3 separate regions of the Homo sapiens genome follow, and regions 2 and 3 are each reported to be linked to region 1. The links are microRNA targets in miRTarBase. Many come from high-throughput screens and were not tested one by one. Region 1 holds a microRNA gene; each other region holds the end of a gene's coding sequence.

Region 1 (4,069 bases):
GATGCAGAGCCCAAAGCTGTTCCCTGAGAGTTACAGGAATTACAACCTGCTGAAGGGAATAATTGTTCTAAATATGTTCTTTTTTAGTATATGTGTGCTGAAGCGAGCACTAAATATCTTCTTTTAATGAGACTTTATTTTTATTATTATTTTATTAATGGAGTCCTAAGAGGAAACAGCAAGAACCACTGTCTTTAGAAAACCATTTGCTTTTCTCTTTGGAGGTGTTTGGTCAATTGGCTCTGAATTCTAAACCCTCCAGTCAGGTCAGGCCTGACTTTTAGTGCCCCTGTGTTTGGAGAAAATCCTGGGCTAAAATCCCCCAATAAGGCTGCTGCCTTGGGATCAGAGTCTCTGGGTGATCTCCCCTGGTACATAGCATCACCTAGGGATCTAATGCTTAGCAAGGACCTGAAGAAGCATTACTGGTTCATTATGGTTAGGACCTGTCAGAACAGAGCTGACGGCTGTCAAGGCCTCCAGGGCAAAGAAAAGAGCACATATCATACATGTTATTTTTCCATGTGCCCAGGCAGAAAGCTCACCTCCCCAGGAGGAAGCTGGGCTGGCAGAGGTCCTCATTGCTTGTGTGTGGCACCTCCTAACGTCAGATGATTGCTTTTGGTTCTGTTCTGCTAGAGATGTGGCAAGAGCTAAATTTTTAAACATTCCTAGTTTGCAAAGCTTGGGTACTGTGCCTGGTGGTTGCTGATAATGCAGGAGACATCCAGGCCAATTTTTACTAAGTGAATATGAACAAGAGAGGGCCCTGAACAGCAAGATCTCCACTGGGGGTCATCAGGAGGTAGGCTGCACACAGTGCCCAGCTGGCTTGTTAATCCAGCGCAATTTAACAACTGTCTGCCGAGTGCCTGTTGAAGGCCTGGGGCGGGAAGGTGAAAGGTAGGCCCACCTCAAGTTGCTCGTGGATAGCAAATTCTTCTTTGATAAAAGTGCTGAGAACTCAGCTTTATCATGTATAAAATGGAAGTATAGAAACCTAATGGTGTCCTTGGGAGAATTTAAAGGTACAATGCATGTAAAGTATGTTATACATGCCTAGCCCATAGTAGGTGCACATTATTTGTTGAAGGGATAAATGAATGAAAGTGAATCAAAGGAACAAATATGAGTCAAGCATGCATATTGTGCTGATAGGTAGTAAGTCTGAGCTAGTATTTTAACCCACTTCCAGGTGGGGGAAGGTGCAGGTTAATTTGGGATGGGCTGACCTATTACATAAGTCAGAGAGTGTGAAGGCTGAGAGCTGATGATCAGAAATGGGTCTCAGAGTGTTGGGTTGAGTTGGAGGCACACAGCCAAAGTGTTATCGGACCAAGGGGGCTTTGGGAGATTCTTGGGAGCCAGGGCCCAGCATTAGTGGTGATCAGAAAGGCAGGGCCAGATCAAGGGTGTGCAGACAGAATGGGCAAATGAACAGTAAATTTGGAGGCCTGGGGCCCTCCCTGCTGCTGGAGAAGTGTTTGCACGGGTGGGCCTTGTCTTTGAAAGGAGGTGGAGAAAGGAAGCTCCTTCTATGAGGCACTTAGATTCATTTCTATCTTCCTAGCCTGAGCACAGAGAAGTATTATATTAATACATACTGGTTTAAAGGTTGTTTCTCTTTCCACTGCTTCCACCAGTTTACAGCTTAGCCTAAGAGATAAGGGTGTAGACTGCGAGCCAGGTTCCTCTGTCTACCTCTGCTCTGCCTCTTACTAGGTGTGCAGTCTTACTAGGCAACCTCCTTCTGTCTCAGTTTTCTCATTTGTTAAATATGAATAATACCTCATAGGGCTGTTATAAGGATTGGATGAGTTACCATAAGTCAAATGCTGAGAATAGTCACTCATGCATTGTAATTTCTCCAGCAACTCTTAGGCATTATCATTACCTTCACCACTGAAATAAAGATCCATAGAACTCTGGCAGGTAACCAAGCAAGAGAGTCCTGATTGGGAGGAAGGACCTTTGGATCTCATCCTACAATGTTGTATCCTAATGCCTAGAGCCTGGCGCACAGTAGGTACTCAATAAAAATTTGTTATTGTTGAATTGTATAGAGTGGGGTTGCTGGTGCAGGGTAGGGAAGGAAGGACAGGACCCAGGGTCCTTTAGGCAATTGCCTGACTTCGGGAAAATGAGGCAGAAAATTGGTGAGGGTCTCCGGACTTGGGACCCAGGCACAGCTGGGATTCTGGGGCCACAGACTTGGGGACTGATCAGTGTGGGGAGCAGGAGAGGCAAGGGAGAGGGAAGAGTGAGAATGACTCTGACTGTGGCCAGCTCCATTCTTGGATAGGCAGAAATCTCGTGTTGAGTCTGTAATCAGCTCTTTAACTTGCATAGGATAGGAGTGTTGGGTCAATATTTCTGGTTATCAGGAGTCTTTTATGTAAAATGGAAATGATAATACCAAAAATATGTCCTGCTTTTCTAAGTCATATGTTTGTTAGTAAGTATCAAATAAGGCTATACCTGTGAAAGTGCTTAATCAACTGTAAATTACCATGGAAATATTATGACCAGTATAATTTTCTATCTCATTGAAACCTTGATTCCTTAGCATGTCTTCAACTTTTCTGTCTCTGGGATATTTGCATTTTCAGAGAGAGTCTAGAAAAAAAGCCTTAATTATGTCAACGGAATGAATGGTGAAGACTGAAATATCAGAAAGGTGCTTCTGTGCCAGAGAACTTTCTAATCCTGCACACGAGTACTATGATCGCTGGGAGAGAAGAGCCAGGGAAGAAGGTTTAATAAAAGGGTGGCTGCAAAATGCTTCTAATTTCCATTACTGCTAACCTCCACAATTCTGTCTGTCCTTCTTTTTTAATCTCACTAAGTTGTAAAGTGTCACAGAGGGTCAGGATGGGAACTCTGTCCGTGAGGCTAAGGTGAAGGCAGGAATTGGCCTTGGGGGACTTCTGTCCCCAGAGAGTACAATGCCTGTTGCTTTTAAATATCTCTTATAAATAAATTGAAAATATCATGTTGCAGTAATATTGAATCCACTTGTACACATGCAAAAATACCTCCAATGAACCCTCCAGGGAAATATTCCCCTTCAACTTCTTTCCTTGTGCATGTAAACCTCTTTTTTCAATATTGATCAATCTACGTACAGCAAATCATGTATAGCAGGAAGCAACCCCTTCTTTTTTGAAAGAGGGAGTGTCATTCTCTTTCCATTTGGAAGATGATTGGGAGAGATAAGTTTGATTCTTATTTCCCACAGTTTAGTGAGGAATGAGTGGAACAAACTAAGGAAGGTTTTAGTTAGGGAAGTAACACAGTTCTGTAGAGAAATCACCACCTAGTTGCATTTAAGGAGCTGTCAGCCTTGAAAGTTAAAAGAGTGGACTGGGCGCCGTGGCTCATGCCTGTAATCCCAGCATTTCGGAGGCCAAAGTGGGAAGATCGCTTGAGCCCAGGAGTTCAAGACCAGCCTGGGCAACATAGCAATACCCTATCATAAAAAAAAAAAAAAAGTTAAAAGAGTGAGTGAATTTCAAGTGCTTCCTGGCAGGTGAGGTATCCGCTGTTTATCCTCACACAGAAATGTTTTCTACCCTCCTTTTCATTGACTATCAGAGCTACCTGACCAGAAGAATTGCCCTTATGCATAATTTCCCTCTCAGCTCTCTTTCTCATGGATGTTGATTAGTTAATGCGTACATTTGCTTAAAGATATTAATTGAGCAGTATTTGATTTTATAGTATGGCTTTTAATAGTAGCAAAGTGTGTGGGTTCTGCTAAAAATTTACCCCCAAATGCAAAGTCTCTTTTCTCTTTGCACTCAATTTTAAGGAATTCCATTCAAACATTGGTAAGAGAATACATTACTGCGAAGATGCAACGATGAGGACGGGGCAGCAGAATGGGGACAATGTGGCTGGGGCATGGGGTCAAGTCCAAATGAAGAGGTCAAGCTATTGAGAAAACAATTGAGGGCAAGATTGAGAGAAGTGTGAAGGAAACAAAAGAAGGGGTGAGTTCCAGTGCATGTGTAGAAATGAGGATACAGACTCAGATGATGCTGCACTCACAAATTCTTGGTAGGGAGGG
Region 2 (4,069 bases), not on the chromosome of region 1:
ATGGGGCCTTACTGACAAGTTTGAGAGTCAAACAAAAAAAGAAACTCCATATATTAAGTGTACTGTTGTTCCCTTTTAGGAGATTGTAAGAACAACGCTCTTGTACCAGGAACCATTCAAGTAAATGGCCATGGAGGACAGCCATCAAAACTTGTGAAGAGGGGACCTGGAAGGAAACCTAAAGTAGAAGTTAATACCAATAGTGGTGAAATTATACACAAGAAAAGGGGTAGAAAGCCCAAAAAGCTACAGTATGCAAAGCCAGAAGATTTAGAGCAAAATAATGTGCATCCCATCAGAGATGAAGTACTTCCTTCTTCAACATGCAATTTTCTTTCTGAAACTAATAATGTAAAGGAAGATTTGTTACAGAAAAAGAATCGTGGAGGTAGGAAGCCCAAAAGGAAGATGAAGACACAAAAATTAGATGCAGATCTCCTAGTCCCTGCAAGTGTCAAAGTGTTAAGGAGAAGTAACCGAAAAAAGATAGATGATCCTATAGATGAGGAAGAAGAGTTTGAAGAACTCAAAGGCTCTGAACCCCACATGAGAACTAGAAATCAAGGTCGAAGGACAGCTTTCTATAATGAGGATGACTCTGAAGAGGAGCAAAGGCAGCTGTTGTTCGAAGACACCTCTTTAACTTTTGGAACTTCTAGTAGAGGACGAGTCCGAAAGTTGACTGAAAAAGCAAAAGCTAATTTAATTGGTTGGTAACTTGTACCAAAATATTTTACTTCAAAATCTATAAAGCAGGTACAGTTAAGGAATAAGTAGAACTAAGGCTTCTGCTTCCTTGCTGCTGTGGTGGAGTAGGGAATGTTATGATTTGATTTGCAAAAAAAAAAAAAAAAAAAAAAACAAACTTACGAGACACTTCACTTCTTTAAATGAATATATATATATATATATAAATATATACATATATATTTTAAATGTTTGCTATTTATTGCCCTTAGATAGGTTATGCATTTTCACATTCATTTCATTCACTGTTTGAAACGAAAGAAATTGATCTATAATGAATTCCTGATTTATTTATAGAAAAGACAATTCTGCTACACTCTTTAGGAGCATAATATTCCTAGTGATAGAGCATTTCATGTTAAAATGAATTATTTTTGACCAAGTGAGGTACATTTCTATTGATACAAGTCATGCCCCTAAAAGATAGATGTTATACAGAGTAGCAGTGAATTAAGAAATGTTTCCTCTAAAAGATAAATATAAAATTTCCACCATTTGATACCCTAAACAGTTTAATTTTAATTATAGAATGTTCATCTACAAAGTATCTAGAGGAGGCTTTTGCTTTATTCCATTTCTGCCAAACAAGAGAAAATGTACTGATGAAGGGAAACATATCCACATTGGAAAACATTTGACTGTCTAATTTTTCAGACCTTGATTCTTATATCACTCAATCTCTGTTTATTGTGCCAAAGACTGAGAATCAGTGCAGTGGAAAGCCTGTTTTTGACGTCAGGACAGCATACACTTTTCAATATTGGAAAGGCTATATATTCTAAAGAGCAAGTTATTAAAGAGTTATGCTGAGATATATCTTTTTTTGGTACTAATAGAAAATAATGCACTGGTGGGTCCTTTGACAGAGATGTTCTAGAGGAAATGTTTAAGTGGTTAAAGGATTCAAGGAAAATACAGGAAAAAAGGTATGGGATTTGATGTTTACTTGTTGATCTGGATTAATGTCATTTCTAAACTTTAGACATATCTAATAGCCTAAAATGACTTACAAAGAAACGTGTCTGTGTGTGTATGTGTATATATTGATAAATGGGTATAATTAAATATATATACAAACACATACTTATATACTATTACCCAGGTATAAATTCTTTTTTCAGGATTTTTTAGATAGCAGTAGAATAAAAATAATTTTAAAATGTCATACTTTATAGTTTAATTTTAAGGGGGAAATTGGTTATTTTCAATTATTAAAGGTTAAAATAGGCCAAATCACTTTTTATGCAATCATGTTTTATACAGTGGTCTCATTGCACATTGTGTTTTTTCTGCACTTTTTACGGTATCCTTATCATGCTGGTATGTCAATATACACCCTAAAGAAAAACTCCATTTAATGATTGTGCCTTGTATTCTATTATTTTTTGCATCATTAGTAAAATTAAGTTGTCTATTGTAAATGATAACTATATGACTTAGGAGAATGTATTGCTATATGTACTGCTATGGAAAAGGAAAGCAGTTATTTATTTGTTTATGGTACAGTTAGTTATTTTATACCTTAAAAACCAACATACTTACCATTTCTATTGTTTAAAAATTACTGTCCATTTTTTTAAAAATTTAAAGAATGTAGTATTTTCTGAGGACTGGTATGGTACAAAAATGTAATCAAAATTTTCAGATACTACATTTTTAAAAAGTGAGGATGGGGAAAATATGTATCAGCATGACCCTGATGTAGAAAAATAAAGTCTGCAATTGAACCTTGGCAAAATACATTACATAATTATTTCTGATAAGGATAAATATTAGCTGTCATTTAACTGTCGTGAAGAATGAAAAAGTGATACATTTGGGCTTTTTAGATCATTTGTAACTAAATTTGTACAGAAATTCTCCTGTGAAATTAAGTAAACCATTTTCCAGATCTTGACTGCATTGCTGAGATTTTGCAGTTGAAAAATAATTTCAAATTTTTCAGGTTTTTTGTATATTTATTTTTTTCTAACAAATATATTTAACTATAAAATTAAAATTCAGTAGTTAAACTCTTCATAATGCAGAAATGGATGGCTTGATTGTATAGAAAAATGAGTCTTTCAGTTACACCATTCTTGAAAATAATAGTGTATGTTTGAAATTTGTCATTAATTAGTTGCTTTTGAAGGCAATCTATTTGAAATATGTAATTTCCTGATGTTATCTGCATTGTGTTAAGAAAAAAATAATAGGCTATAAAATCAATTTTTGTAAAAAAAATGTACAGTTTTAAGTTGTGTACAGAAAAAGGAAGAGCGTACACAGTCTTAGAGTGGAATATACCTCTAGTACAGTGTATGTGTTAATTCCAACTCAAGCAAAGAAATGAGTATTTACCATCTTTCCTATAACATGTAAATGTATTATTCCTGTTCTACAGACACTGTATATTTATGACCTTATTTGGACATTATTAGACACTGGTTTCTTAGTAAAGCACAGTAACTTGGATCAGATTCTTTGTAACCGAAACACTTAAACATGTATTAGTAATACCAATATATTTAGATTTTATATTTTTATAATTTAGCTTCTATGCATTACAGAAGTTGAATTAAGAAATTTAAGTCATCACCATATTTTTGTTTTCTTTACCACTTGGGAAAATAATCCTCTTTGAGGCAGTAACACTATGTATGTACTGTTAATAGGCCAGAAAGAAATATTGGCAGTTGTCTTAGGTAAGCAATAAAAACATCTCCAATTTACTGAAAGTTCAGAAATATAACTCTTACATGCATGGAAAGTGTAAACCAATTTAGGTATTTCTAAGTACCCAACCCTAGTATTCTCTCCCTCAACTCCAACATTCTCAAGTCCCAGATGAAAAGTTTCAGTGGAGCATTAGTTTAAATATTTAGTCTAATCAGAGACTCACAGCCCTGGGCAATAGATACATAGCTTTTTAAAATTTTATCCTTTGTGACCTGCTATAGTGGCATTGGACTATTTTCTGCATGTATTATAAACTAAAGATTGGCCTTATTTCAATTGTTTTTATTGCACAACTTCACTACAAATTTAAAGACTGCTGGCATTATTATAAAACTGTCTTCCTCCAATCCAAGTAAATAAGTATGTGGAATATTTGTGAGCTGGATTAGGTAACATCTGAGACTTGGGATTGACTAAATTTAGTTATCACTTGGAAATGAATTACATAAGATACAGTAATCAGAGAAAATATCTTTATGCAGCATGTATGTTAACATCTAGAACTGTCCCTCATCTGCAGTGCAGTAGAGGAATCAGACATTTTAAGAAATGTATTCAAATATTTTTATCTTATATGTTAGCAGCATTTACATGTTTTCAGATA
Region 3 (4,069 bases), not on the chromosome of region 1:
TACTATAATAACATCTATTAAAATTCATTTTTAATTCTCTTATGGTGATCAGTGTTTATTCCTTTATTTTCATGTTTCGTTTTGTTCTTTGTGTTTAACTCTCTCCATCTAGGAATTTATCTTATTTCGCTACACAAAGTAGCCCATCTGCTGTCATTTTGAACCTGTGGGAAGCTCGTCATCAGCATGATGGTGATCTTGACTCCCTGGCCTGTGCCCTTGAAGAGATTGGGAGGACACACACGAAACTCTCAAACATTTCAGAATCCCAGCTTGATGAAGCCGACTTCAACTACAGCAGGCAAAATGGACTCTAGTCCACTTCCTCCCATGAGACAGAGTGATGGCCAGCTTGGGGACATTTGCTTTAAATGGGAAAGAGGCCGCTTTCTGCCCAGTGGCGTTGGGGGAATTCAGCCTTCATTTATAATCAGTGAGATTCCCCTGTTGAAGAAACTAAATTTTATATAGGTAAAACATGTTAATAGGGAAGAGTACAAGCTCTCTTACATATAAGAGGGCTCTACTATCTCCTTGGAATCCACATTTGGGTTAACTCCTCAGATTTGGAGTGGCAAGGATAAAAGTGAGGGCAGAAGTAGCTGTGGGAAAAGATGAGCTATGATAATGCTGGGAAGGCAGAGATTGATTAAGTGCATGCTTTGAAATAGGTTTTTAATGATGTGCCCCAAAGGGCCAGCTGATTCTGGTACTAGATTGTCAGAGTTTTCTACCAACTGGCATCTGTGATGTCAGAGATCATTGTAAAAATGGCTTTTAGACGTGAAACAGGGTTGCCAACCCATTTGTATGACTTCAACAACGTCAAGGAGGGCATTTAGAATTTAGAATCTGAGCACATCACACCAGCACCAGCTCCCTGTCTCTTCTAGCCACTTAATGGAGACACAATGGAGAGGTAAGACAGACCACAAACTAGTTCTTATAGTGTACTCCACCTTTTACTTTTTTCCTGAGACAAATCTACCCTTATTCTTTCTTCCTCTTCCTTACCCCTTGCAGTAGGGAGGTATCAAGGAGCATAATTAAACTTGTCAATACGGAAAGTTGTTTTTTCTAACACAACAAAGTGGGACCATCTCTATTCCCATCTAAGCCACTCAAATTGCTGAGTGCTATTAGAACACAGCTTATTACATGGATATGGGGACAGGAGAGATTAAAGCAGGTTCAAAAACACATGAACTGCAGATGCCATAGGCCTCAAATCAGCTGTAATTCTAGGAGACACGTGTTGATCTAGTTATCTAACATTGTTGTTATAAGAAAATGAGTTTACTGCATTTTTCAATCCAGATTCTTGAAATTGTCTAACATGTGGGTACTGTGTCATCACAAAATCTCTCAGTAAGGCTATATGTGATCCTCATTTTGCCTCTTGGGAAATTAGCAGATAGTCTTTGCTCTAAATGATATCTGAGTAAATAGACTTGAGGAATCCTCTACCACAGTGTCCCTGAAACCACATGCATCATTCAGGAAGCCTTCACCCTGTGACTATTCAGCCTCCCTGAATATGCTTTCTCTATAGAACCACTAACATATGGCTATTGCTCTATGATTTTTTTTTTTACATTAGGAGGCAGTGATATTGTGGAAGATTGAAATCCACAGATAATTCATGACCCTCATCTTATCACTTTACTCCATCTTTTTATCCTATTAAATTATTTTTGACAAGATGTCCTGGTAGACTAAAGGTGAACAGATTTGCTCTTGCTCATCTTCTGGTGGATATTTTAACTTGCTATTCACAATCAGGACAACCAAAGTCAAGGACCCAGATGAACCACAAGGCAGCTAGTCAGCTACTTAGAGGTTGGTTACATTCGAATAAAAAGTAGTCAGGGAATGGGGGAGGTGGGGAGTTGGGGAGTACTTGGCAGTTGGGATATGATCCATTTTTTTAAACAAGTTTTTTGTAGATCCCTTGTAAAATAATAATAATAATGTTGTGAATCTCCATGCCAAGTGAAAAAGGCCTAAAGATGAGTTGAATTTGTGATACCATGGGTAAGGCATGGAAGAACTCTTGAATGTGTTGGCCATTTTCTCTAACTAACATGTGGTATGTATGGTCCCCTATATTAGATAGAAGTCTTTGCTACATGTAATTCAAAAGCATCTCGCTTTTCTCAGGAACCAAAGGCTTATGATGTAGGACAAAGAAATCATCTTAGAACTGTCAAGCATATTTTCACAATACCATGTCAAGATCAGGAAAACACCCTTTTGCTAGTGTGCTTAACTTATTTATTTCTTCTAGGAAACAATAGATAAACAGCATGAAAATGTAAATCATCTGGCATCACTGATAGAATTTCTGAAAGAGAAAGAGAAGTAGATGGTCAACCAGTCACTAGTTGGTTGGCATGAGGTGGTGTGCAGAGGAAAGCTGCATTCACTATTGAGTAAAAACTTGTAGAAAGCACATTATAGAGCTTATGTTGGAATCCATCTTGGAGGATTTTTGTTTTAAACTGTCTTTAGCATTTTCCCTCTTCCCTTCTAATGGGCATTATAATTGTTTCATCTACTCTGTGAATCTACATAGGTCTTTTTTTTTAGATGTTTGATACATTTTAAGTATTTTTAAATAGATGAAAATTCTAAATGATTTTCCCTCAAATCTATCTAGATTATTTTAAGATGAGACAAGATTATTGTCAATCCCTGAATGTCTGGAGTTACCTCCCATGGATTTTTTTTTCCTTTGGCCTGGGTTTTATAAACAACTTGAACATCATATCATATAGGATAACAAAGGAGGAAGTTAACTTAATTCACCTCAGACTTCAGCCTAAGATTCAATCAAATTCATCCTTCAGCCTGTCTTGTTTCTTCTTTATGTTTCTTTTACTTATTGCTGCTAGGATCCTACATAGGATTTCTATAGAAATGTATGAAATTCTGTGGTCACTGCATGTCAGGATTGCACAGTATGTTACAATACAATTTCAAAGAGAACCCACATTTGTGAGATTTACAGACCAAGGTGTGGTGGAGGAGGTAGAATTGCAGATCAGATAAAAAGTGAGCTTACACTTGAACTTAGTTATTCACTGTGACCTAAATTTAGTCCTATTGTAATATGTGCCTGTCACAACACAAATACCCCTCTTGAAAGAGATTTACTCATCTATCCAAGCACTTAATTTGGAAATTTTATTGTCCTATTGCAAAATGAAACAAAATTAAAAGTGGCCTCGAGTACTTGGTAAGTTACTTAAAATTTTTACAAAAATATCCCACTCAATGCCAAATCTTTCAGTCCTCAAAGGCATTTAAGTCCAATAGTCATGCTTTAAATATGGCTTTAAATTATGCCACCAAAATGGTGCACTTCACAGATTCACCAGACTGTAGCATCATAAAGTTAATTTACAGTTTTTACAACATTGCTTCTACATTCTTACTGGTTTACATTAAAATCCTTTAAGCCAAAAGGAAGCTTGCTCTATGGATTTAAATGCAAACTTCATTTACCAGTGCAGGAAGTCTCATAAAACTCAGATGTACTCCCACAAAAATTTTATTGGCCTTTTTGTAAGAGATGAAAAAGAATTGACACAGTTCTCTTTAAAGAGAAGAACTTTTTTATTATTATTTTTATCTCCAACTGCAGGTGGTGTCTTTTGCCAAGGTCTCTGTATTTTTCTTTCAGTTGTCTTTGGGAGGGGATGTTAAGTCAAATCACTAAAACAGGGTTCTCTTTGGATTAAAAGTTCTGGATTTATTGCAACTATTTTCCTTGAGAAACATTCTCAGCATCAGGATTGATAAACAAATGTAGATGATTAAAATAGGATAATTGGTTTTAGATAATATCTTCTACTGCCAAACTTCTGGCAAATTTACCTGTGAATTTCAAAATGTTATAAAATCTCTTGATATGCTTTTGTTTTTCCTTTTAGCCATTTTCTCTTCAATTTCTTAGTCCCTCTGCCCTCTGTAAATGTGTTGAGTGATATAGCTATCAGATGTATTGAAGGCAAAGTTCTCGCAGAGGTCTCTGTTCCAGCTCTGTAAAGGTCACAGGAATCGTGAA

The links. The annotated mature microRNA hsa-miR-557 reads GUUUGCACGGGUGGGCCUUGUCU and lies in region 1 at 1,483-1,505, shown strand. An mRNA with a match to its seed (bases 2 to 7 or 8) in the 3' UTR can be bound and repressed. Matches are read on the target gene's strand: a 7mer-m8 pairs with bases 2 to 8, a 7mer-A1 pairs with bases 2 to 7 and ends in A, and an 8mer does both.
Region 2: the mRNA of PHIP is a reported target of hsa-miR-557. Seed matches in the 3' UTR shown: 7mer-A1 at 836-842.
Region 3: miRTarBase lists UNC5D as a target of hsa-miR-557. Seed matches in the 3' UTR shown: 7mer-A1 at 3,199-3,205.

What each region holds. Positions count from the first base shown.
Region 1 is chr1:168,374,102-168,378,170 of GRCh38, forward strand. It overlaps MIR557 (microRNA 557), which reads left to right and starts at 1,423; the gene lies at 1,423-1,520.
Region 2 is chr6:78,937,341-78,941,409 of GRCh38, reverse strand. It overlaps PHIP (PHIP subunit of CUL4-Ring ligase complex), which reads left to right. Exons shown (of 40, transcript NM_017934.7): 40 at 80-4,069. The coding sequence ends at 717. It also overlaps a transcript of IRAK1BP1 not described here. Among named protein-coding and RNA genes, the nearest start is that of IRAK1BP1, 72 kb to the right of the region's middle.
Region 3 is chr8:35,790,247-35,794,315 of GRCh38, forward strand. UNC5D (unc-5 netrin receptor D) reads left to right here. Exons shown (of 17, transcript NM_080872.4): 17 at 113-4,069. The coding sequence ends at 317. Among named protein-coding and RNA genes, the nearest start is that of UNC5D, 560 kb to the left of the region's middle.